Linked DNA regions of Homo sapiens. The protein of the gene in region 2 purifies or fractionates together with the protein of the main gene of each other region. This does not show direct contact. Each region holds a gene or a part of one and is shown on either strand. Other genes may lie near its edges.

The links.
Region 1: the proteins of CDH8 (region 2) and HADHB purify together in Homo sapiens (affinity purification with mass spectrometry; 2 studies listed by BioGRID and IntAct, with this or other methods). This does not show direct contact.
Region 3: the proteins of CDH8 (region 2) and PLD2 purify together in Homo sapiens (affinity purification with mass spectrometry; 2 studies listed by BioGRID and IntAct, with this or other methods). This does not show direct contact.
Region 4: the proteins of CDH8 (region 2) and CTNNA2 purify together in Homo sapiens (co-immunoprecipitation; 3 studies listed by BioGRID and IntAct, with this or other methods). This does not show direct contact.
Region 5: the proteins of CDH8 (region 2) and CTNNA1 purify together in Homo sapiens (co-immunoprecipitation; 3 studies listed by BioGRID and IntAct, with this or other methods). This does not show direct contact.
Region 6: the proteins of CDH8 (region 2) and HADHA purify together in Homo sapiens (affinity purification with mass spectrometry; 2 studies listed by BioGRID and IntAct, with this or other methods). This does not show direct contact.
Region 7: the proteins of CDH8 (region 2) and ARVCF purify together in Homo sapiens (co-immunoprecipitation; 3 studies listed by BioGRID and IntAct, with this or other methods). This does not show direct contact.

The regions. Positions count from the first base shown.
Region 1 is NC_000002.12:26,251,439-26,254,938, reverse strand, and holds part of HADHB (trifunctional enzyme subunit beta, mitochondrial isoform 1 precursor), read right to left. Parts: intron 693-3,500; 5' UTR 685-692; coding exon 621-684; intron 510-620; coding exon 465-509; intron 1-464. UniProt on the Homo sapiens protein: Mitochondrial trifunctional enzyme catalyzes the last three of the four reactions of the mitochondrial beta-oxidation pathway.
Region 2 is NC_000016.10:62,033,639-62,037,593, forward strand, and holds the start of CDH8 (cadherin-8 isoform 1 preproprotein), read right to left. Parts: upstream 2,801-3,955; 5' UTR 2,442-2,800; intron 1,549-2,441; exon of another isoform or gene 1,445-1,548; intron 1-1,444. UniProt on the Homo sapiens protein: Cadherins are calcium-dependent cell adhesion proteins. They preferentially interact with themselves in a homophilic manner in connecting cells; cadherins may thus contribute to the sorting of heterogeneous cell types.
Region 3 is NC_000017.11:4,817,152-4,820,540, reverse strand, and holds part of PLD2 (phospholipase D2), read right to left. Parts: coding exon 3,282-3,389; intron 2,540-3,281; coding exon 2,435-2,539; intron 2,245-2,434; coding exon 2,156-2,244; intron 2,048-2,155; coding exon 1,934-2,047; intron 1,768-1,933; coding exon 1,718-1,767; intron 1,458-1,717; coding exon 1,323-1,457; intron 1,113-1,322; coding exon 959-1,112; intron 1-958.
Region 4 is NC_000002.12:79,873,051-79,876,550, reverse strand, and holds part of CTNNA2 (catenin alpha-2), read right to left. Parts: intron 2,476-3,500; coding exon 2,209-2,475; intron 1-2,208. UniProt on the Homo sapiens protein: May function as a linker between cadherin adhesion receptors and the cytoskeleton to regulate cell-cell adhesion and differentiation in the nervous system. Required for proper regulation of cortical neuronal migration and neurite growth.
Region 5 is NC_000005.10:138,931,425-138,935,534, forward strand, and holds the end of CTNNA1 (catenin alpha-1), read left to right. Parts: intron 1-1,153; coding exon 1,154-1,288; intron 1,289-1,463; coding exon of another isoform or gene 1,464-1,534; intron 1,535-2,377; coding exon 2,378-2,665; 3' UTR 2,666-3,610; downstream 3,611-4,110. UniProt on the Homo sapiens protein: Associates with the cytoplasmic domain of a variety of cadherins. The association of catenins to cadherins produces a complex which is linked to the actin filament network, and which seems to be of primary importance for cadherins cell-adhesion properties.
Region 6 is NC_000002.12:26,227,633-26,231,132, forward strand, and holds part of HADHA (trifunctional enzyme subunit alpha, mitochondrial precursor), read right to left. Parts: intron 2,663-3,500; coding exon 2,560-2,662; intron 1-2,559. UniProt on the Homo sapiens protein: Mitochondrial trifunctional enzyme catalyzes the last three of the four reactions of the mitochondrial beta-oxidation pathway.
Region 7 is NC_000022.11:19,978,824-19,982,323, forward strand, and holds part of ARVCF (splicing regulator ARVCF), read right to left. Parts: intron 3,269-3,500; coding exon 3,110-3,268; intron 2,915-3,109; coding exon 2,388-2,914; intron 1,420-2,387; coding exon 920-1,419; intron 870-919; exon of another isoform or gene 569-869; intron 258-568; coding exon 74-257; intron 1-73. UniProt on the Homo sapiens protein: Contributes to the regulation of alternative splicing of pre-mRNAs.

The DNA.
Region 1 (3,500 bases), on a different chromosome or scaffold from region 2:
TATTAACTAGTTCCTAATCACTTCTATTTCAGGAATGGGCCCTCTTGCACATGGGAGAAGAAGATATTCATCAATAGAGAAGCATTTCACAAATTGCAAATTTAAAGTTAACTTTTGGTTCCATAGCAGGTCTCAAGAGCATTTGTATGCCATTCACCTCCAGGACGGACAGCAAGAGGATAAATAAACTGACCAACGAGGTTTATGGAACCTCCATGACTCCAGCAGGTTCAAATCCCAGAAAACAGCCTCCCATTAACATCCTCAAGCCTAATCCTAAATAATGTAGTATCATTATTGATTGGACCTATAATTTTTTAATTTGAAGGCAACAGAGATGTTCATGTGCTCATAAAAAGGGGAGAATTAGCAAATTAGTTTTGGTTTTTATTCAGAGTTCACAAACTATAGAATCTGGAATCTAACATTTAAATCAGAAATATTTATTTTACAAATTACTGTACCTGGGGCAGCTCGTAGCTGGGAGGAACAGCTCAGAGGTCTTATGGCTGGAAGACAAAATAAACTGTTTACAAAAAGCAATACCATTCAGTATCTGTGCGAGATGTTTATAAATCCAAATCCAATCTCTAAAAATAAAAAAATAATAATAAACTTACAAAATCTGAGGGCCCATTTTGATGCAGTGGGAAGATTTTTAAAGGGGTAAGTCAAGATAGTCATTCTGGAATCTAAAAAGAGAAGAACAAAAGTATATCCTGGATTAGCTGAACAATTTGTAGTTTACATTGTAGTCTATGAACTCTGATAACCTCATCCATGGCTACTAGAAAACATTAAAACTTAATCTTATCAACTATTCTTCATCTAATAATATTATTATGATAGGAACACCAACATGGTTTTCACATTGCAGCAACCACTATTCTAAGCATTAACCATCTAATCTTCACAATGACCTACAAAGGAGGCATGATTATTACATCCTTTGTAAGAGATAAGGAAATTGAGGCATAGTAGGATTGAGTGACTTGCCAAAAGACCTACAACTAGTGAGTGGCAGAGCTGGAATTTTTATTTATTTATTTATTTATTTATTTATTTATTTATTTATTTATTTTTTTGAGATGGAGTTTTGCTCTTGTTGCCCAGGCTGGAGTACAGTGGTGCAATCTCGGTTCACTGCAATCTTTGCCTCCCAGGTTCAGTCGATTCTCCTGCCTCAGCCTCCCGAGTAGCTGGGATTACAGGCACGTGCCACCACACCCGGCTAATTTTTTGTATTTTTAGTAGACATGGGGTTTTGCCATGTTGGCCAGGCTGGTGTCGAACTCCTGACCTCAGGTGATCCATCGCCTTGGCCTCCCAAAGTGCTGGGATTACAGGCGTGAGCTACCGCACCAGGCCCAGAGCTGGAATTTGAACCTAGGAAGTCTACCTCTAGAGTGTGTGCTCCTCTCCTTTAGGGTCAAAGAAGCAGAGAGACTGCTAGGCGTGATAATAAAACCATTAGTATTAGTTTCACGATTCTGAAGGCTGTACTATGATTATGTAGAAGGCTTTGTGGAATGTTTGTATCTGAAGGGAATATACACTAAATAGGGATGGTGAAGCATCATGTCAGCAACTTAATCTCAACTGCTACTAAAAAAAGTTTGTAGTACTGCACTTGCAACTTTTTCAAAGTTTGATACTGTATTGTTTCAAAACAATAAAAAAGTAAAACATATAATAACCCTATATGTTAAAAAATATGTAAAATATATTAACAACTTTCCCCCACCCCTCCAAAAAAGACTAAATTTCTAACAATGAGTTCCTACAGATTACTAAGGAAAACACTAGCAGACAAATAGGCACAGAATATGAACAGACCACAGAAAAGGAAATACAAATGGTTCTTAAGTATATGAAAAGATGTTCAATTTCACTCATAAGAAGAATTCAAATTAAAACCACAGATATAATTGTCTCTCAAAGTAGCAAAGATTCAAAGGTTTGATATATACTCTGTGTAGGTAAGAGTATGTGCAAATAGATATTCTCATATACTGCTGCCAAGAGAACTGGCACAGTCCATGGGGAGGGCAATTTGGTAATTATCCATGAAAACTATAACTGAAACTAATGTTTGAACCAGCAATTCCACTTCCATGAACTGACTTCATGGATATTACTCACACACAGGACATAATCCATATTGTTACTGTAATAGTCAAAAATTAGAATAACCAAAAAATAGGAAAATGGGTAAGTAAACCATGCTACAACACCCCTGTGAAATACTATGCAGCTGTAAAAGGTAAGGAAATGATTATGCACCAATTCGGAACCATTTTAAGCTGTATCATTAAGTGAAGAAAGCAAGGTGCAAAATAGCTGTACAGCATGCTATCATTCATGTTAAAAGAGGAAAAATATTATGTACATTTCCTTGTATCAGTATAAAATCCCCCTGGAAGTATAATAAAGATGTTAAAAATAATTGTTGGCTGGAAGAAAGGGAACTGGGTAACTAGGGGTCAGGGGTGGAAGACTTGTCATCACACACCTTTTATAATTTCTTAATTTTGAAGCATGTTTTAACAACAACAACAAAAAATCAAAACCAAAAAAATCCCACAAGATTTACCAACAAAGACTTTGGTAGCCAGCCTCCAAGTTGCCCCCCAATAATCTCTACCTCTTGGTATTCACATCCTTGTCTAGCTGCCTCCCTCTCCATATCACAGAATGTATAAACCAAAAAGTATGTTACAAGTAATGGTATGCCACTTCTGAGATAGGCTATAAGAGATACTGCAGCATCTGTCGTGGTCTCTCTCTCAGCTCACCCACTATGAGAGAAGCCAGGTGGCATGTCCTGAGCAGCCTTATGAAGAGGCTCCTGTGGTGAGGAACTGATGCCTCTTGCCAACAGCCATGTGAGTGAGCTTGGAAGCGGAGCCTCTAGCGCAGGCAAGCTTTCAGCTGACTCCAGCCCTGCCAACATTCTGACAGCCACCTTATGGGAAACTCAGAGCAACCCAGCTAAAGTGCCCTTGATTCCTGACCTTCAGAAACTATGAGATGGTAAACATGTATTGTTTTAAACTGCTACATTTGGCGGTAATTGGCTACACAGAAATAGATAATACAAAAGCTTTAAGGTTTAACTTCTCTTGGGTCTTTAGAGACTAAAAGAAGGAGGTCCTATAGCTTCCGAAAAGAAAAAAACAAAACATGTTCCAAACATGTGGATTGGAAAGAGATGGAGAAGCCCAAGCTTTAGGATCACCAGCCTAGGGATATTCAAAGGACTCTGGCCAGAGAAACACAAAGAGGCCCATGAGAGAGGCACCACTCAGAAGCTACTTACAATGCCACAAGGGTCTGGGCTACAAGTTCCCTTACGTAAGGTTCATCTTGAAATAAAATTCATGAAAATTGTCAAGAAAATGTTGAAAAACAAAAGGGGGAACCTTGTTGCAACAGATAACAAAACTTTCTAGGCCAGGCACAGAGGCTCACACCTGTAATCCCAGCACTTTGGGAGGCCG
Region 2 (3,955 bases):
TACAGCACAAGTTTCAGAGCACATTAGCCAGTGTCTCTAAAACATTTGGCCTATTTGCGATGGTCAGGGGATAACTTGACATTCACTTGGGGAGTGTGGGGATCAGAATGAGGAAGGTGAACTGCCACGGAAGGGCTCTGAATGAAGCAGTCCCCGGAGTTGCTGGAAAGACTCCCCTCTCTGTTTTCAGAGGGATTTTCCTCAACTCCTCGCCTTCTTCAGAGTCCAGAAAAAAAAAAATCAAAGGCGATTTAAAATACTGTGACTGCTCCAGCATGAAATGACTATGTGACAGCGAGCTTCAAATCTGCTAAAGCAGAATTACAGAATATTATTATCAGAATTATTATTTAATAAGGGGGATAGCTCTAGAATTTATTCCAGCCACAGAGCTCGGGGAAGTGGAAAAACATGTCTGGACATGATGATTATGGAGAACTCCCTTTAAGGGAAAAAGAATGTAACCCTAAGAGAACATCCTTCAAAGGTACCACTTCTCTCTGTAGAAGAATCCCACTCCCAGCCCCCACCTCATATATATATCTCTCTCTCAAACACACACACACACACACACACACACGCACACGAAGAAATCCCTGCAACACTGGACACAGCTGATGCAAAGCAATATCTAGGCAGGGATTTTACTGGTATTTAGCATGAACGACAGGGCTCACTTTGCATGCAGTGAGGTGCAGCAGCGAGGCTGAATGGATGGAAAATCCCACTTTCGAATCTTACATAAACATCTTTCCCACATATAGTTTTCCAGTTGAAAAGCTCCTATAATAAAGCCTGAGGTGACAGCCCAAGGAGGGTTTTTAACCATTGAGATGGCTGTCAGGAGTGTTGTAAAGAGAACAGGCGCTTCAAAAGCCAGCCCCCATCCCTCGGATCTGCTTTGCGATGGTACCGGATGCGAGAGGACAGTACTCTCGCTTACCTTCCCTAGCGTCCCCTCGTTCCCATTGTCAGCCCCCAGATATCATGACGCCAGGTGAAAGAAAGCAGCTGATCTGATTAGCAGCTCGGGCGCGCTAAGGGATTGTCGAATCATGCCTCCTAAGGAGGAAACTCTTGTGGAATCTTCAGGAAAGGGTGGTAAAGTTGAAAGGACCTTTCCTCCCTCCCGCTGTCTTGGTGATAAGCTCTATCGTTTAATTGGTGCTGAAGTGAGCAGCTGCCAGCCCGATTTTCCATTACGGACTAATATTGTGCGTTTGCAACAATAAACAATTAATGTGGTTTGATTTCTTACATTTAGCAACCCAAGCAAACAGCTGCCATCTCCGCTGGTGGAGGCAAACGGCTAGTCCTTGACATGCCGCCGGCTCCGTGCCTGCGGGGGAAGGGTCAACCGCAAGGAAACTTTGAGGATTCTGCCAGACTGGGTGGGGGAAGGCTCTGGTGTTTGGGAGGAATAAGCGGAGGAAATTGTGGATACCTGTTGGCATCAGCGTTGGCGGCAGCACGTTTTTTTACCGTTTCCCAGCCTTGGCTGGATCCTGGGAGAACCGGAGTAGGTCCCTTATGAACCTCTTACGTACTGGCAGAACCTAGGCAAGAGCCTTTTTCCCTCCGATCCTGCGAGGGGCGCGACCAGCCCCTCAAAGGTTCCCGGATGAGAAGCGGCCAGACCACAGAAAGCGCAGGTCTGGGCTCAGCTGTCCCTAGGAGAGCGGCTACGGAGTCCCCGGCTTAAGGGGGCCTCCGTGCACGCAATCTCGAGTTGCGGGGAGACACTGCCTGGGGGTCCTGCAGGGGTGCTGGGCAGCGTCTTGGCGAGGGCAGAGCCGCAGGGCGACTCCGGAGCCCGGCAAGTTTGTAGCGGGCACCGCACCTCCCAGAGCTGGAGCTGCCACTTGTGGGAAAGCCTCGCGCTGGGGCTTTCGCAGCTGAGCCTTGGCCCGCAGCCCTGCCGCGGGGGTCGCCCTCCCTCGCCTCGGAGATGAGGCGGTGCAGAAAACCAGCCATAGACCACTCGGGCCCCCTCGCCTCCTTTTTTCCCTGGCTTGCACCCTCCGCACAGCGGGCTGCAGGTGCTTCCCATTCACCGCACGGACCCCGCAGTGAAGGCGCGCGGCTGCAGCCGCGCCTGCCTGCGTTGGGAAGCGGCGAAATAGCCAAGTCGCCGCAGGGAAGGAAACCGGCAGGAAAACTGGAGGGGCACAGCCTGGAGCTTGCTACTCTCTAGGATCTGTTGTCAAAGCAGTTTGCAAAAACAGTCAGGCAAAACCTTGAGGCGTACGTACGTTATCACCCACGGATATCGCGAAAGACACAGCTTAGCCCAGAGCCTATGCTAAGAACCCTCATCCACCATCTGAGGGGCAGGAGGCGCGCAAGGTGTCCGAAGGGGCATGGGAATTCCTATAAGAAACGGTCCCTTCTGGATAGTCGGAACATAGAGGAAAACGGGGGTGGGTTAGGGGAACACTTACTCTTGTGGGGCCCTGCGCTGGCGAATGTCAAGCCTCCAGGTTCACAAATGGCTGGAGGTGCTCGGGGTTAGCTCCCGAGGGCGGCAAGCGCCGACCGGTCCTCGCTCGCTAGGCAGGCGCCTCCGGATTCCGTTCATGCCTCTCGGAGCTACAGGGCTTGGTGCGGAGACGCAGGGCGGGCGCGCTGGGCTCTGGGTGTCCGCAACCCAAAGTGCAGCTGGTGTCTTGACGCTACCGTCTATGCACAAGCCGGCGGCGGCGGCGGAGCTTGGAGGAGGCAGGGAGATTCCAAATAAATCCACTAATTCTGGGCTGAGCGCTCCGGCGTGCGAGCCCGCCTGCCTGCCAAATGTAACTGTGAAGTGATGTGGAAAAGTGAGCCGGGTGCCTCCCCTGACGGATCTCATTGGGCAGAGCGCAGAGGCAGGTCTACCACTTGGAAATTCATGTAAGCAGTCCCCCCTCCCCGCCCCCTCCCCGCCTTCCCCCTTCGCTCTCCCGCGCTGGCTCGATCGCTCTCTTTCCCCCTACCCAAGTGGGCGCACAACTTTTCGCTCCTCGCTCCCGAGCAAGCCCCGCGCGTCTCTGCCGCCAGAGCCACGAGGTGAAGATGCGCCCTTCCGCGCGGTGCGCGCAGCCCGCTGAGGACCGAGCTCCTGGATAAGTGGGCTGGCAGATAATAACAGCATGCGGATGAGGTACCTGCGAGCTTTCTCTCTAGAGGTCTCACCTGAGCTCTGGGGCTGGCGTTATGTTGAAAAGCGTCTCAGTGACCCGCAGCTATTTTCCGTAGGAGGAAGAGGACGCGACAGGGCAAAGGGTTGAGCGTGGGCAGCTTACCTCCTCTTTATTCCAAGGGCCTCTTGCGTACAGAATAGGGTGATTGTGAGACCCCTGCCTGCAACTCAGACGCTATGTAGAGGCTGTGTGTCGCGGTTCTGTGATGGAGCGCATTCCTGATGTCCCCGTGCTCCTTTGGGAAAATGGGATGAGGGACAGCAGAGTGGCAGCCAGGAGGGGCGCGCAGTAGTTGGTTGTGGGGAGGAGGGCAGGCAAAGCAGAACTTGCTTGGGAAATAGGGGAGGAATTTCTAGGTCTTCTCAATGTGCCCTGATCTTGTCATATCCTCTCAGATACCATCCTTGCGGTTCTCCTGCCTCCACCAAGACCTGCCCTGTCTGTGGTCACTTCAAGTCTTCTGATGGGCTGCGCTCAGATCTTGAGAAATGGCCACCCTGGGGTAAAAGGGACCATGAATCAGGAGGTCCAGATTTCTTTTCTTTTTCAACACTGGGGCTAACATGTAGACGATGCCACAGTCATCATCTTCTAATAAAATTAGATAAATATAAGACAAATAAATTCTTACCTTAAAAAAAAAAACCCTCCCCTCCACAGGAGATCCCGATTTAGTCCCTTCCCTGTGTGCACTAGACGTGAGCCTGAGGGTGGATTTTACCATCTGGGGACAGAGCAAGAACAGAAGGGGGAAAAAGGTGCAGGGGACAAGACGC
Region 3 (3,389 bases), on a different chromosome or scaffold from region 2:
TCATGCCTGTAATCCCAGCACTTTGGGAGGCCGAAGCCTGAGGTCAGGAGTTCAAGATCAGCCTGGCCAACACAGCGAAACCCTGTCTCTACTAAAAATACAAAAATTAGCTGGGCGTGGTGGTGGGCGCCTGTAATCCCAGCTACTCCGGAGGCTGAGGCAGAAGAATTGCTTGAACCCAGGAGGCGGAGGTTGCAGTGAGCCAGGATCGTGCCATTGCACTCCAGCCTGGGCGACAAGAGTGAAACCGTGTCTCAACAACAACAACAACAACAACAAAAAAGATTTCTTTTTCGTGGCCAGGTGCAGTGGCTCACGCCTGTAATCCCAGCACTTTGGAATGCTGAAGTGGGTGGATCACCTGAGGTCGGGAGTTCGAGACCAGCCTGACCAACACGGCGAAACCCCATCTCTACTAAAAATACAAAATTAGCTGGGCGTGGTGGCGCATGCCTGTAATCCCAGCTACTCGGGAGGCTGAGGCAGGAGAATCGCTTGAACCCAGGGCAGAGGTTGCAGTGAGCTGAGATCTCGCCATTGCACTCCAGCCTGGGCAACAAGAGCAAAACTCCGTCTCAAAAAAAAAAGATTTTTTTCTCTTTTTGTTTTTTGGTGTTCCTGCTTTACTGATACTCTAAACTGATTAGTCCTAGTAGCTGGGATCACAGGCGCCCGCCACCACACCCAGCTGATTTTTTGTATTTTTAGTAGAGACGGGTTTCACTATGTTAGCCAGGCTGGTCTCAAAATCCTGACCTCAGGCAATCCACCCGCCTTGGCCTCCCAAAGTGCTGGGATTAGAGGCGTGAGCTGCCGCGCCCAGCCTTGCCTATTGAGAATCTAGTACTGCCTCTACCTCTGGCTCCGGGAGTACCTATGCGGTGCTACCTCTTGTCCTGCTCAAAAGGCAGACGCCCCCATCTCCCTCCCACCCTGTGGCATCCCGCCCCAGCTCTACCCGAAGCAGTGCTTCCGCAGACTCAAGGCAAACCTGCCCGCCTGATACTCTGCCCCATTCATGAGGGATGGTTCCGTCTCTGTGTCCTCGATCAGCACGGCCAGCTCACTGTCCCGCTTCCCCAGCAAGCTCCGGTCATTGATGTTTGCAGAACCTGGGGTGGATGCGGGGCACACTGTGTGCTTGGGCCCAGGGCACTCTCCCCAGTACCCCATCCCCTCTACCAAAGCACTGGCCTGCAACATTCCTTCTTGGACCCTCCACCCCTACACGAGCCTCAGCTGCAGTCTCTGTCATCCTGCCTCTCATCTCTTCGCCTGTCCCCACACCCTCTCCCTGCCAGAGGACTAGATCCGGCACTGACCAATGATGACTGTCCGGTCATCTGCGATGAGCACCTTGCTGTGGATGTAGATGAGCTCCGAGACGGGGTGCCCGCCCAGCTCTCCGTGTGTACGAAGCCCGCAGATGGAAATATAGTCCCGCCATGCTGTCCCCACTGCGTGACAGGAGGGGAAGTGAGGTGAGAGGTGGCTCTGTGTGCACAGGGCCCTGTCCCACCTCCTCTCACTCCAGAAACTCTTCCTACATAGAGTCTGGTCTCTCTCCTTCTCCCTGCAGTGAAAGGCCAGCTATGGTCTGCGTAGCGTCAGAGGCTCACAGGAGTGACAGCCTCCTTCCCCCACCCCCAGGCCTGCAGCGCCCCAATCTCCCTCTCCCAGGGGCCCAGGGCTTGAGCCCCCAGCCCCCAGCACTCACTGGCTGCTTTAAGGCGATGCAGGATTGAATACTCCCCACGACACAGGGTCCTGAGAGAAAAGAAAGAGGGAGAGAAGTGGAGGCTGGCAGAGGGGAGGGGAGGTCAGGAGAGGTGGCCCTTCTTTAAGGCCCAGCAGGAAGGGATCAGGACAGAATCAGGAGGGGGACACGGGTGGGATGGGGCCACTGAGAGCTGGAGTCCGCCTGGGGGGTCACCTGTAAGTAAAGTGCAGAATGGCCTGGATGGAGTTGCCACCGCCCGTGGAGATGTCACCCTCGAAGCCAGGGAGTAAGGGCAAAAGCACGTAGACTCGGTAACACCACCCCTGTCTGGGGAGGGGGTGGAGTCAGAGGTGCGACTGGTCCCTCAAACCCCACCCCCTTCAACCGGGCTCAAACCACACCCACAGTCCCCACCTTCCTGACAGTCCACCTTACTTGTGGGCCTTCAGGATTCTGTCCACAATCTCATCGCCCACCTTGTTCAGAACCGTCCGCCCATCTGAGCAGCTAATGAAGAACTGATTCTGGGGCAAGAATCAGAGACAGACATCAGCAGCCTGGCCCCTGGCCCTGTCCTCGGCCTCCAGCCTTGGTCCCAGGCTCCAGGCGTCTGCTTCTGCTCCACCAGCCCTCAATGACTGACTCCACTCATTCCCCAGGTCTCTCTCCTGGGACACCCCTTCCATGCTCTCCCCCACCTCCTCCCAGTCAGACCTCAATGTAGAGGAAGTGCTGGCTCTCCCTGATGGTGTGCAGGTAGGCATTGAGGATGGAGTTCTCCAGAGTCCCTGCTGACCAGCGGTCCACTGATCGCAAGACCTAGGGAATGGTGAATGCGATGTGCTTCATTTCTTTTCTTTTTTAAGACAGAGTCTCGCTCTGTTGCCTAGGCTGGAGTGCAGTGGCATGATCTCCGCTCACTGCAAGCTCCTCCTCCTGGGTTCACGCCATTCTCCTGCCTCAGCCTCCTAAGTAGCTGGGACTACAGGTACGCACCACCACTCCCGGCTAATTTTTTGTATTTTTAGTAGAGACAGGGTTTCATGGTGTTAGCCAGGATGGTCTTGCTCTCCGGACCTCGTGATCCGCCTGCCTCGGCCTCCCAAAGTGCTGGGATTACAGGCGTAAGCCACTGCGCCTGGCCTTTTATTTTATTTTTGAGATGGAGTCTCACTCTGTTGCCCAGGCTGGAGTGCAGTGGCGTGATCTCAGCTCACTACAACATCCTCCTCCTGGGTTCAAGCGATTCTCCTGCCTTAGCCTCCCTAGTAGCTGGGACTACAGGTACGCACCACCACGCCCGGCTAATTTTTTGTATTTTTAGTAGAGATGGGGTTTCACCATGTTAGCCAGGATGGTCTCGATCTCCGGACCTTGTGATCCGCCTGCCTTGGCCTTCCAAAGTGCTGGGATTATAGGCGTGAGCCACCGTGCCTGGCCGTGATGTGCTTCTTAACCCCAGGAAAGGAGAGTGTGGGCAGCTCTCACACCAGGGAGAGTGGGTTGGGGTGTTAGGCTGAAGGAGACAAAGGGGAGGGCTGGCTGAAGTGGGGGGCCTCACCTGTACGGTGGTGCACTGCCCTCCTGGAAGTGTGAAGGGGAGCTGATTGGCCGTGCTGGTAGACTTGGGAAGCAGGTAGGGGTATGTGGGAGTCTTGTACTTGGCCTT
Region 4 (3,500 bases), on a different chromosome or scaffold from region 2:
TCTTAACCAGCTCCTCACTTAGGTTTTGTTGTTTATTTTTGATTATAAAATAAATTATAACTAGAATAATGTAATTGTGTCAAAATCTGACTAAATAATCCATTCTTAACTAATTTTAATAAACACCAATTTATAAAATAATTTTGTATTTGAGATTGCCTATGATTTTTATTCTTTCATGGATGAGTCCATTTGTGTTTCAATACACACCTTTAAAATTAATGTAGCATTACAATGTTTTAATATCTGTGTGTATGACCTGCTCATTTACTTTTCCCTGAAATATGGGCTCATTCATTCTTTATTCTAGAATATAAAAAAAGACAAACAAACAAAAATCCTTTATCACTCCTCTGTCAAGTTCCAAAAGAATCCTCTTAGAATTTGTATTGAGATTGCTTCAACATTATGAAAACTGATAGGATCAATAGTTCTCCTACTCAAGATCATGATATCATTTACTGACAAGTAAAACTTGTCCCTCAATAAAGTAATATAATTTGACTTTTTAGGTCCTTCACATCTATATTAGACTTATTTCTAGCAGATATAAGAAATAATAAAATAAAATTAACTTTTTAAAAATTATTTGTTTTGTGAATATCTCCTCGTTATTCTACTTTATTTTACATGATGAAAATCTAGAGATTTTTGTATATTTATGTTATATAAAGTAAACATTATTTTGAACTCTCATTATTTTCTATGAATTTTCAGTTGCTCGCTGCAATTTTGTGAATAAAATTACCTATTATTAAGTCTTCATTTCTGTAGCAAGTGCTTTAAATATATTATCATATTTAATCCTCACAAAAAAAACCTTAGGAAATAATATATGGTGTGAGATACATATAACTAACTGTAAAAATATGGGAAAGAGGAGAGACCACTATGAAAATGGTAAGAACTATTTGAGTATGAACTGTTAAAATTATTCCTCAGTTATATCATCCATCTCCAAGCCTTGAACAATCATTGCTTTGCTCCTGGACCTTTTTTTCCAGCTGCTAACTAGTTATTTCTTGCCAAAAATTCACATCAACATATTCAAAAGCAAGCTCATCATCTTTCTTCATGACCATTAAGTAACCTATTTTTCTTCTATGAATTCCTGTAACATTGTGTTTTATCAATTAAATGGTGTTTAGTGCATTCTACTTCCCTCATCTCCCCTGCAGGGTTATTTAACCCTGGAAAGTAGATGCTAATTATTTATAAATCTTTGTAGGCTTTCATTGATCATAAGATAAATAAATTCCAACTTCTCACAGGTCCTCTGACCCGGGGGGAATGGGGGCTGTCATCCCGGGGTGCTGATGACATGCGTGCAACCTTCTCACTCACACTGATGCTTCACATATGGCTCAGCACAGTGAACAATCCTCCTTGCTTCTTCCCTCACCAGGACACACCTACAGAAACAGCCAGTGTAGAATGTAGGACTTTCAGAGAACTAACACAGGCTCTCCCCAGAGGGTCTGTTCTAATGAAGACCAGGGTCCTGTGTGGGATCATAGGGCAATGTACTTTATCACTGATTTAAAACAAAGAAATTGATGGCAGCTTTTCACGCAGGCACAACATAGAGGCAACGTACATCTAGGCTGCCCATAACATGTGCCCCTTTAATAATAAAGATGATCGTCAAATTATGAACTGTCCCTAAAATAGCCTGTAAGTTATCTCATCTACCTGGAAGGGATTGGGCACTCTTAAATACAGTTGTTTCTTCTTTTTTCCCCGAGACGGAGTTTTGCTGTTGTTGCCCAGGCTGGAGTGCAATGGCACGATCTCGGCTCACCGCAATCTCCGCCTCCCGAGTTTAAGCGATTCTCCTGCCGCAGCCTCCCGAGTAGCTGGGATTACAGGCATGCGCCACCACGCCCAGCTAATGTTTTACATTTTTAGTAGAGACGGGGTTTCTCCATGTTCGAACTCATGACCTCAGGTGATCCACCCACCTCGGCCTCCCAAAGTTCTGGGATTACAGGGGTGAGCCACCGCAGCCACAGTTGTTTCTTTAAAGACAAGTGATAATGGCTTAGCCAATATATTACAGAAATGCATTATGTAGTTTATCTTACTATTAAAACCTCCAAAAGAGAAAAATCAATGTAAATTATTGTAGTGGCCCTTCATCCTCAATACATTTTTTTTTTTTGTCAACACCAGTGCCCACCCCTCTGTGTACCTCACCAGGATGCTTACGTCAAACTCATTAAGAGCCGCAGCCAGCTCGCCGATGCCCGTGTGGCCCTTGGCTTCGTCAGTGGGCGAGGTAGCTTGAGCAGCATTGGAGATGCCGGCGATGGCCTCCTGGACTTGTTTGAACACATAATCTCGGTTGGCTCTCGTAGCGGCGACATCTGGGTGGCGGAGAAATGCTTGAGAGGCCGTGTACAGCATTGTGGCATTCTTCTTCAGAGCCCCTCGGGCGGCTGCCATCTCATCCCGACAGTGAGGATCCTTCAGCTCCTGTGTGTGTAACACATGAAAGCTGTCACACACATGAAATTTGCATAGAAATATTTGCAACACAGTTTGGAGTCACAGACTCTTAGTAACACACTGAACTTCAGAAACCCTTGTGCTGTTTCTAGCTGCCAGGCCTTTGCATATACTCTTTTGTTTGTTTGTCTGTTTTATAGAGACAGCTAGGTCTCTATAGTGACCTAGGTTGGAGTACAGTGGTGTTATCAAAGCTCACTGCAGCCTCCATCTCCTGGGCCCAAGTGATCCTCCCTCTTCAACCTCTTAAGTGGCTAGAACTACAGGTGCATGCTTCCACACCAGGCTAGTTAAAAAAAAAAAAGTTGTGGAAGTGGGGTCTGGCTATGTTGCCCAGGTGGGCCTTGAACTCCTGGCCTCAAGGGATTCTCCCACCTCTGCTTCCCAAAGTGCTGGAATGACAGCCATGAGCAACCACACCTGGCCTACTGTCCCTTCTATGTGAAATGCCTGAGCTTTCCTCCTCTGCCCTACCCTTTCACCTGACAGGGCTCCACTGACTTGGCACATCCTCCACCCAACTTTCTAAGCTGTGTCCCCTTTCATCTGTTCCCACAAGACACTCTTCCTCTCCTATCACTAACACTTCCTACTTTACTGTATTTTTTGAGCATATATTTCTCTTCTATAACGTACCTCTAATGACAGCAGGGAGCCCTAGTTTTCTTATTCAGTGGCTCTTTAGTCATTAGCAAAGTGGCTGGCCTATAAGAGGCATTCAATAAAATATTGCTGAGATAATATAAAAACCAAGCCACCAAGAAGGTAAATTGATTGCATGGGCCATACAGTTAGTTATGAACAGACAGAAAACCTGAAAACGTCAGTCTTCTGAGGCCCTACTTGCCTCCATATTCAATTACTGTTACAAATGGGAAACCAAACTTCTGATTTTTGCTCAACACATCAGTGTCCCTTAATTATCATTTTCAGAATAGGGTTCCTGCTTTGTTGTTGTTGACAGCCTCTAATGGCAGCTCATCATTAAGTTT
Region 5 (4,110 bases), on a different chromosome or scaffold from region 2:
TACAGTTTTTCTCTGTAGTTAACAAGCCTCCCCACCATTTTCCCTGAAATAGCCAAACTCTCAGCCTCATCTAGGCCACAGGATGTGTGAGACACAAGCCTCCTTACACAAGCCAAAGATTGTAAAGGCATCCTTGACTCCCACACAATCGGTAATAGGGCCTATTGCTTCCATTGGCCAAATGTATCTTGACACAAACCAGTCTTGTCCTTTCTGCAGATCTCCATAGCCACTTGGACTACTGTGGCCGCTCCCGATTTCCTGTTCTTTCCTCTCTCCACTTCCTTCTGCATCCAGCTGTCAATACTGTCATCTGAAAATGCAGATCACATGGCTCTGCCCTGCTTCCATGACTACTTAGAATACAGCTCATCTCCAGTATGGTCTGCGGGGTCTCAGTTCATACCACTCTCTGTGGTGTACTTTGCTCCAGCCTCACTGGAAGAAAATGTTTGCTTGCTATAAACACTTGAGAGGTGCTCTGTGTTTCTCCCTTTGGGTAAAGCTTTCTAGGCTGGTCCTAATCTGGGAGCCTCTAAAACTCTGAGATGTGGAGCGAGACAGGAACTGGGCAGGGGCCACCCTTTTCTCTTTGACCATCCCCAACTGCTTTTTTTCTTGCTTTACTTTACTCACTTGTCTTCCACCTCAGCCTGCAGTGAGTGGCTTTTGTCATCAGGCATTAATAACGCAAAGTGCCTCAGAGCAGAAGAGTTAACTATTTGTTTACTTAGCTAAAAACATCTGGACTTTTCTCCATAGCCAGGCTCCTGCTTGCTGAGCCGGCTTGTTCTCACCTCGAGGGGCATGGGCCTCCACCCTGCCGTTTGGGGTGAGGGGATCCTTGGCCAGGGTGGTTTCCCCGCCGTCATAGGAGGGAAGTCAGTGGGAGGCTCAGAAGGCCTTGGCTATACAACCAGTGCCATGCGGCGCAGTCAGGGTCCCATGGACGACTTCCATCAGCTCACCCGCCTCCATCCCCAAGCAGAGTGTAGGCAAGGGCTGTGACTGCCTCAGGTAATTGGGTGATTTTGCTCCAGCAAGAGGAGAGGAAGCATGTGAGTGCCACACTGAACCTTTCAGAAACAGCCGTGGGGTCGGGGGTGCTTGGGCCAGGCCAGGATACTTGGTGTTAAGCCTGCTCTCTCTTCAGTGCCCCGACTCGGCTTGCAAGCAGGACCTGCTGGCCTACCTGCAACGCATCGCCCTCTACTGCCACCAGCTGAACATCTGCAGCAAGGTCAAGGCCGAGGTGCAGAATCTCGGCGGGGAGCTTGTTGTCTCTGGGGTAAGCATTAGCTGAACAAAAAGAGGGCCAGTGGGAACGTGCTGACCCTTGTCAGAAATGAAAGTCACCTCCTATCCGCATAAACACCTGCCCTGGGAAAGTGTGCTGTGCAGAAACTCCAAGTCCTGTCCCAGTCTCTGGAGACCAAGGTCTGTCCATCATCTGTTCCCTGTAGAACTGTGACACCTGCGGGGCACTGCAAGGGCTGAAAGGCTGGCCTCCTCCCCTTTGCTGGCCACTCACTGGGTAGGAATTTTTAAAAATCTTCCTTGGGACCGGGCGTGGTGGCAGGTACCTGTAAGTCCCAGCTACTTGGGAGGCTGAGACACAATAATTACTTGAGCCTGGGAGATGGAGGTTGCAGTGAGCCGAGATGGCACCACTGCACTCCCGTCTGGGCAACAGAACAAGACTGTCTCAAAACAAAACGAAACAACAAAACAAAACAAAACTTCCTTTTCTTCCCCCAGAGAGGAATTAAGAGTAGACATAGATAGGGTGTTTTCTCAAAAGCCCTTCACTCCTCAGAGTGCTTGGGTAGCGTCTCTTTCTTTTTACCACATCACAGTTCTGAGGCCTTTCTCACCTAGGGCAGGGGAAAGAAGAGGTTTGCTGAGTGGATTGGGGTCCACCGAGCCTCCATGGCTTCTCTTAATCCCACTGAATTTCCTTTAAAAGAAACACTTCTTATATTGAACATATTGAGACCATTTGCTCATCTGCTTTGCCATAAACATCCCTGTCTCGATTCCTGCTTCTCCTCCCCCACGTGCTTACAGCTCTGGGATCACTTACAGTGACTTCCAGTTGGTTTGAGTGAATAAACACTTGCTGAGGGGTGGGGGTGAGCAAGGCGAGGTTGCCTCATGTCTTCTCCAAAGGGTCTGAGGGCAGGCGCTTCCAGGCTATTTAGATAAGAGCAGCCGTTGAGGGTGTTCTTCAGGAACAGGCTGCTGCCCAATCCTCTGCGACCTGCCCAGGCCCTGGTCTTGCAGAGGAGTAGGGGGCTCCCCTTCAAGCACAGCCCACCTGTGTCCACGAGGCTGGAGGTCAGGCCGGTGCTTCTTACCACCCCTGTCTGCCTCGTAGGTGGACAGCGCCATGTCCCTGATCCAGGCAGCCAAGAACTTGATGAATGCTGTGGTGCAGACAGTGAAGGCATCCTACGTCGCCTCTACCAAATACCAAAAGTCACAGGGTATGGCTTCCCTCAACCTTCCTGCTGTGTCATGGAAGATGAAGGCACCAGAGAAAAAGCCATTGGTGAAGAGAGAGAAACAGGATGAGACACAGACCAAGATTAAACGGGCATCTCAGAAGAAGCACGTGAACCCGGTGCAGGCCCTCAGCGAGTTCAAAGCTATGGACAGCATCTAAGTCTGCCCAGGCCGGCCGCCCCCACCCCTCGGGGCTCCTGAATATCAGTCACTGTTCGTCACTCAAATGAATTTGCTAAATACAACACTGATACTAGATTCCACAGGGAAATGGGCAGACTGAACCAGTCCAGGTGGTGAATTTTCCAAGAACATAGTTTAAGTTGATTAAAAATGCTTTTAGAATGCAGGAGCCTACTTCTAGCTGTATTTTTTGTATGCTTAAATAAAAATAAAAATTCATAACCAAAGAGAATCCCACATTAGCTTGTTAGTAATGCTCTGACCAAGCCGAGATGCCCATTCTCTTAGTGATGGCGGCGTTAGGGTTTGAGAGAAGGGAATTTGGCTCAACTTCAGTTGAGAGGGTGCAGTCCAGACAGCTTGACTGCTTTTAAATGACCAAAGATGACCTGTGGTAAGCAACCTGGGCATCTTAGGAAGCAGTCCCTGGAGAAGGCATGTTCCCAGAAAGGTCTCTGGAGGGACAAACTCACTCAGTAAAACATAATGTATCATGAAGAAAACTGATTCTCTATGACATGAAATGAAAATTTTAATGCATTGTTATAATTACTAATGTACGCTGCTGCAGGACATTAATAAAGTTGCTTTTTTAGGCTACAGTGTCTCGATGCCATAATCAGAACACACTTTTTTTCCTCTTTCTCCCAGCTTCAAATGCAAATTCATCATTGGGCTCACTTCTAATAACTGCAGTGTTTCCCGCCTTGGGCTTGCAGCAGAAAAACCTGACAACATAGTGTTTGCTAAGGCAGTAATTTAGACTTTACCTTATTTGTGATTACTGTAGTGATTGATTGATTGATTACTATTAACTACAAGGTATAATTTACTATCACCTTATTTAAATTTTATGAATTAATTTGAATGTTTTTTACACTAACTAACTTTTCCCAATAAAGTCCACTATGAAACCACGACATCCAAGAGCCCAAAGTCGTCTTCTCTGCCTTCAAGTCATAGATTTGCCCGCAGTATCTGTGGTGCTCTGGGCCCTCCCGGTGTCCGTCTCTTCCAGGATGGGGATGCCCGGGAGGGAAACTGTCTGTGGCTCTAGGCTGCACGGCTCGTGCCAACCCATCAGGGAGGGCCATGCCCGTTGTCCTATTGAGTGCCCCACCCTGCACCCCCACCTTGGGAATTCACATGTCCATTCCTTGAGGTTCATGTCAACCTCGGAGGCATCCCTGTCTTCATTATAGCTGACCCCTCTCCTGCGTCCTTCTGTCAGCATATCCCTTCTGCATCCTTCCCGTCACACATACATACCAAGCTATGATGATTGATTGATAGTGGCCTTCGAGATGAAAACCATCCTTAACCCCATGATCCTTCCCAGCTGGCATCCCCACCCTAAGCAAGGTTCCCTAAAGAGAAGCTTGTTGACATTTTCTCCCCTTCCTCACTTACAGTCAGCTGTCA
Region 6 (3,500 bases), on a different chromosome or scaffold from region 2:
AAAGAGTATAACCACTTTGGGAAAACAGTCTGACAGAAAAGCAAACACATACCTAGCAAATACTAGTGGCATATGCCTCGTAATCCCGGCTTCTTGGGAGGCTGAGGCAGGAAGACTGCTTGAGCCCAGGAGTCTGAGGCCAGCCTGGGTGACAGAGCAAGACTCAAAGTCTCATCTCTAAATTTTTTTTTTTTCTTCCCAGAGATAAGGTCTCCCTCTCTCACCCAGGCTGGAGTGCAGTGGCCTGATCATAGCTCCATGTGACTTCAAACTCCTGGGTTCAAGCAATCCTCCTGCCTCAGCCTCCCTAGTAGCCAGGACTACAGGCATGTGCCACCACACCCAACTAGTTAAAACTTTTTATTTTGTTGAGACAGAGTCTTGCTATGTTGCTCAGGCCAAACTTTTTTTTTCAAAAGCTAATATATATCTGTTATATGGACTAGCCAATCCACTCTTCAGTACTTACCCAACAGAAATGAAACATTTGTCCACATAAAGACTTTTTTTTTTTTTGAGACAGAGTCTCGCTCTGTCACCCAGGCTGGAGTGCAGTGGCACAATCTTGGCTCACGGCAACCTCCACCTCCTGGGTTCAAGTGATTCTCCTACCTTAGCCTCCCAAGTAGCTGGGACCACAGGTGCACACCACTACACCCAGCTAATTTTTGTATTTTTAGTAGAGATGGGGTTTCGCCATGTTGGTCAGGCTGGTGTTGAATTCCTGACCTCAGGTGATCAGCCTGCCTCAGCCTCCCAAAGTGCTGGGATTAGAGGCTTGAGCCACCACGCCCAGTCACGCCCACATAAAGACTTAAAGATGAATGTTCATAGCAGCTTTATTCAGAATAGCCCTAAATTAGAAACAACTCAAATGCTCATCATTTGGTGAACGGATAAACAAACTATGGTACATTTCTACAATGGAGTAACACTCAGCAATAAGGACAAACTGCTGATATATGCAACAGTATGGATGCATCTCAAAAGCATTATGCTAAGTGAACGAAGATTAAAACAAACTACATACCAGAAATGTTTAAAAATTTTTGTTTAAAAGATGGCATCTCACTCTGTTGCTCAGGCTGGAGTGCAGTGGTGTGATCATAGCTCACTACAGCCTTGAACTTCTGGGCTCAAACAATATTCCTGTCTCAGCCTCCTGACTAGCTGGGACTACAGGTATACACTATGATACCCAGCTAATTGAAAAAAAAAAATTCTTTTTTAAGAGATAGGATCTTGCTCTGTTGTCCAGGCTGGTCTTGAATTCCAGGCCTCAAGCAATTCTCCCACCTCAGCCTCCCAAAATGCTATGATTACAGGTGTGAGCCACCATGCACGGCTATTTTTGGATTGTGGCAGTGTTTACACAGCTATATACATTTTCAAAACTCAAATTATACATTAAAAGTTGGTCAATTTCACCAGACACAGTGGCTCACACCTGTAAATCTCGGCACTTTGGGTGGCTGAGGGAGGAGGATTACTTGAGCCCGGAGTTTGAGACTAGCCTGGAAAACAGAGTGAGATCTCGTTTCTACAAAAAATAAAAAATTAGCTGGTGTAGCAGCGTATGCCTGTGGTCTCAGCTACTCGGGGGGCACAAGTGGGAAGATCATTTGAGCCCAAAAAGTTGAGGTTGCAACAAGCTATATTCACACCACCATATTCCAGTCTGAGCAACAGAGTGAGACCCCAACATGTGTGCGCGCGCACACACACACACACACACACACACAAAATTAATACATTTACTATTATGTAAGTAATATCTCAATAATGCTGATTTTCAATAAATATAAGAGGGTAATGAACACACAAGTCAGAATAGTGGCTTCTTTGGATAAAGGGAGGCAAAGAAACTGAATGGGAGGAAGTAGCCCATCAGTAGATATCAATTATTGTTAATATTCTCAGGTTGGTTGTTTCATTTATTATATTACTAAAACAGACACAAGAAACTGAAGGAAGGTTATGCATGGATAATGATACAGGTAATTTAAGAACCAAAAATAATGACTTGACTGAATTCTGTACTCCTAATGTTCTAATTATAAAGCAAAATAAAAATCAGGGTGATGTTGAAAATGATTTAGTATTAGCTATTTTATAAAACTTCCTTCCTTAGAATAATGACTCATTTCTTAAGAGTTTGAGCTTCTCTCTGTGCTTCCTGTGATATTCAAGAGGTTAACTGTTTTTTCTTTTGAGATGGGAGTCTGGCTCTGTTGCCCAGGCTGGAGCACAATGGCATGATCTTGGCTCACTGCAACCTCAGCCCCGCCAGGTTCAAGCGATCCTCCTGCCTCAGCCTCCCAAGTAGCTGGAACTACAGGTTTGCACCACCACACCCGGCTAATCATTTTTAGTGGAGACAGGGTTTCGCCATGTTGGCAAGGCTGGTCTCAAACTCCTGACCTCAAGTGATCTTCCCGCCTCAGCCTCCCAAAGTGCTGGGATTACAGGTGTGAGCCACCGTGCCTGGCCTAAGAGGTTAACTCTTTAAGAAAATAAGTAACTTTATAAGGTCTGACTCTGAGATGTGCTAACACTTACCCAGGGGTTCCACCAGTTGGTCAACCAGTCCCATTTTCTTTGCCCTGTCTGCACGAATGCTTCTACCAGTCAGCATCATGTCCAAAGCAGCAGGCACACCCACCTAACAGGCAAGCAAGGATGAGAATATAGGGGGAAAAAAATCAGGGTGATAATTATATAGTTTACAAATCATCAAATGAACAAATATTAAAATGAGAAAAGTCAAGCCATATGTTTATGCTATTTGTCAACAGCATAGATAAGTTATATTTAATATACTGATATACACTTGGGTAACTTTGGGGATTAGATACCTCTAGCTGAAGCAAAAATGTCTTTATCTCTTAATTCAATATATAGGATTCTTATACTAATAAGGTAAAGAATTTCATGTTTCCTAAAATTGTACATTTCTGTTATTCTGAGGGGTTTTTTTCTATCATATATATAATATGTAAAATTCTGGCCAGGCACGGTGGCTCACACCTGTAATTCCAGCACTTTGGGAGGCCAAGGCAGGCGGGTCACCTGAGGTTAGGAGTTTGAGACCAGCCTGGCCCGACATGGTGAAACCCTGTCTTTACTAAAAATACAAAAAATTAGCTGGGCATGGTGGGGCACACCTGTCATTCCAGCTACTTGGGAGGCTGAGGCACAAGAATTGCTTGAATCCGGAGGCAGAGGTTGCAGTGAGCCGAGATCATGCCACTGTACTCCAGCCTGAACAACAAAAGTGACTCTGTCCCAAAAATAAAATAAAATAAAATTCTCATATTGAAACTAGAGAAGACTGTGAGAAACCTGATAGTTTTGACAAAGTCTTTAAAAAGAATTTTAAGCTTAACAAAAATAGAACTCAGCTAGGGCTGCTTATATGGCATACTAGAAGAAAGGCTTCTAGCAACATTCAAATACCAGCTATAGTTTAAGAAAAAAAAAAGAAGAAAGAAAGAAACTCA
Region 7 (3,500 bases), on a different chromosome or scaffold from region 2:
TTCCACACTATCTGGGACCACGAGGACGGGGCCTGGTGTGCATGTGGGCTTTAGCACCAGGTCTGGTCCACACCTCAGGCAGCCCGACGTGTTCTTGAAGACAGTTGTCCACTCGGCGTCCCGTGGCTTGGAGTCCTCGTTGGGCTCACGCTCCCATCCTGAGTGGGGCACGATCACCTCGTGGGTCAGCGTCTGCAGGCCATGGTCAATGATGACCATCTTCAGGGGCTCATAGGATGACAGGTTCCACAGGGTGCCTGTGGGGTGCGATTGGCCAATCTGTGCTGACCATATGCACCGCCTGCCTACCTCCCCAGGTGGCCACGCTCAGGACCTGTCCCACTCTCCTCATGTCCCAGCTCATGCAGAACAGTAGGAAGTAACAAAAGCCGTGAGTGGTTCCGGGGGACACCCAGTACTGGTTTCCAGCTAGGAAGGAGCCCCAAAGGGGAGGAGGTGCAGAGGAGGGTGTGGCAGTGCTGTCCCGTCCCACCCATTCCCTGCCATGTGGCAGGTGGCACTAACACTCCTGAGGCCACAGGGCCTCACAGAGACACGGTGACCCTACCTGTCCCTCAGCTCTCACAAGGCACAAGCCCCACCACTGCACGGTTGGGGTGGGAACCAAGGAGGTGGGTCCCAGGAGAGTTTCTGTGGGGGCAGGAGGTGTGAAGGCAGGAGGTGAGGGGACATGCCCGAGGGGCGCAGCGTCAGCCTCCCTGCTATGGTAGAGACTGGGGAACCTGTCACAGTGTCTGGGCCTGATGCCTGGCTCCTGGGGCAAGCGTCTCAGCAGCTGCACTCCTGCCTACCGGGTGCTTTCCCAGGCGGTCGCAGGCCGAGTGGCCTCGTTCCTCCCGGGTTGAGCCTCACACTCTTCTCTTCCCAGGGGATGTGAGCATGGCCAGGTCCCACTCACCAGTGACAAGCTCACGGACCTCGTTGTCCCGGGCAGCCCTCAGCAGGCGCACCAGGGCAGGCACACCACCGCAGTCCCGGATGGCGGCCTTGTTGTCAGTGTCGCGGCCATAGGAGAGGTTGCGCAGTGCCCCACAGGCCCGGCGCCGCACCTCAGCCCGCGGGTGGTCCAGCAGTGCCACAAGCAGCGGCAGCCCCCGCAACTGCCGTACACGCCGCTTGACACCCTCGTTCTCAAAGCACAGATGCTGCAGGTAGGCGGCCGCATTGGCCTTCACGGGGTCCACGGGGTGCCGCAGCATGGCCAGCACCTCAGGCAGCTCAGGGTCCCGCCAGCGCGGCTCCTTGCGGGCGCTATCCACTGAGGGCGAGCGCCGCACCAGCCGGTCCAGGCTGCCCATGCTGCCCCGTTCAGGCTGGGCCAGGGGCGCCGTCACCATTGGGAACGCAGGCCGCTCGTCCGCCAGCTCGCCGCCATCATCTGCTGTGTCCTCGTAGGCCCTGCACAGGCAAGTGGGGCGCGTGGACATCGTCACAGCAGCCGCCAGCCCTGCCTCTGAGCTGCCCCATCACACCTTCTTCAGGACTGCAAACTCACCCAGCAGCGCTGGGCTGAGAGCACCTGTATCTTGGCCCGGAGCATGGTGGGGACACAGAGAGTCATGCACCAGCCCAGTGAGAACCAATTCAGAGCCAAATGCCAAACCCCAGCCAGCGGCTACCAGGACCCAGGCAACCCTCCCAGGACAGCAAACTCACTCACTGCTGTCACCGGGCAGTTTCCCAATCCCGAGCAAAACAAGTTTCTGTGAGACATCTGCTATGGCTGCTGGAGAGACCGTCTCACCTCCCTTCCACAAAACCACCCCATCTTCCATGAGGCCCATCTCTGGCTGTGCCAGGATGTAGGGGGAGTAAATGGCCCTCTCCGCATGAAGCCATCCCAGTAGGACCACCTGAGGAGTATTCAGGCCACCAGCCCCTTGGGGCACAAGATCTCCTTAGCTCTCAGTAGCCCTGTGGGTTGCTGTCATCAAACCGCCTGCCCTGAGGCTAGGAGTGACGGTCAGGTGACTTGGCCAGGGTCACACAACAAAATCCTGACCCGGGCTGTGGTCACATCCCCACTCCAGAGATGCAGAAACTGAGGGCAATGGGGACAGAACCAGGGGCTGTGACAAGGGCCAGGGCTCTGGGTTCTGGTTACCCAGAGTGTGGCTGGAGCAAGGCCAGTGGCCGGCACTCTTCCCAGCTTTCCTGGGCCCTGGGCCTGCAGGACAGTGCCCAGCCGAACTCCTACCACCCCAGGGTCCACCTTTCTTCTGTCCCTGACGAGAGCCAAGGCCAATTCAAACTAACATGCATGACTAACTCAACTGCGCCACTTGACAAGTGGGGCACTCTGTAGTTGGGGGGTGGAGGGCAGACTTCCCAGAGGAGGTAGCCACAGGGGACGGGGTGCAGCTCACCTGGTATGAAGGCCCCGCCCACACTCAGGCCTCCTCCTTGTGGCCGTGCCATAGTCAGGCTCCAGCTCAGGGCCACCCTCGTCATCAGCGGCCAGGCTGCGCGTGTCATCCTCCAAGCCATACGGCTCTGCCTGGAAGCGCTCGGGCAGGGAGCGGCCACCTGGTGGCCCAGGCTCAGGACCCACCGGGAAGGCTTCCCGGTGGCCAGGCAGTGTGAAGCAGCCATCACCAGGGCCTGGGCCAAGGGGGCCAGCACGTGGGGGCCGCATGCCCAGCCCTCGGGACAGGCTGCCATAGCTGGGGCTGTCCCGGGGCTCGGGGCCTTCGGGAAAGCCACCCCCACTGCTGAGGTAGGCTCGAGAGAGTGTGGCCACTGGGCCACCACCACGCAGCAGGAAATGCCGGTCCAGGGCACCATCTGCAAAAGGGCCTAGTGGGGGGCCGCCATCCAGCAGGGGGAGTCCATCTGGGCCCACGGGCACCTGGCGTACTGTCCGAGTGGTCACCGTCTTGACAGTCTTGGTGACCTGGTGGATGGATAGGCAGGTAGGTGGGGTAGCACGAGAGGCCTAGAAACTGCTTTGCTGGGGTCTGGCTGGCCTTAATTTCCCACTCGAGCAATGAGAGGCCCCACGTGGCAAGCTTCCATGTCCACTCTGCAGGTGGGACAGCTGCAGCAGCCTGGCCCTGCTCACCCACCCACTGCCTGGGCCTGGCCATACCTTGGTCTCGGTGCGCCGGGTTGTGCCATCTTCGGATGTGACAATAGACACATGGGAAGTGGGTGTGCCGGGGTCCTCCTCCACCGTCACGGTCTCCTCCAGCACATCAGGTGCCTCCGGCATCGTGGCCAGTGAGGCCTGGCTGCCTGGGCTCTGCTCCTGGGGCAAGGAGGGACATTGGTGGGCAGGCCTGCTGCTCAGTCACCCCTGGAGTGCAGGTCTCCACACACAGCAGCTCTGCCTCAGCTCATGCTGGCCAGCACACCAGGGTGCCTTCCTCCTGGTCCTGAACCCACCCACCCCAAGGCCTGTTTCGGCCCAAGCTGACAAGGACAGCAATAAGTTCTTGCCCTCTGAACATCGAGGTGCTAACCCTGCCCCGGCACCCCAT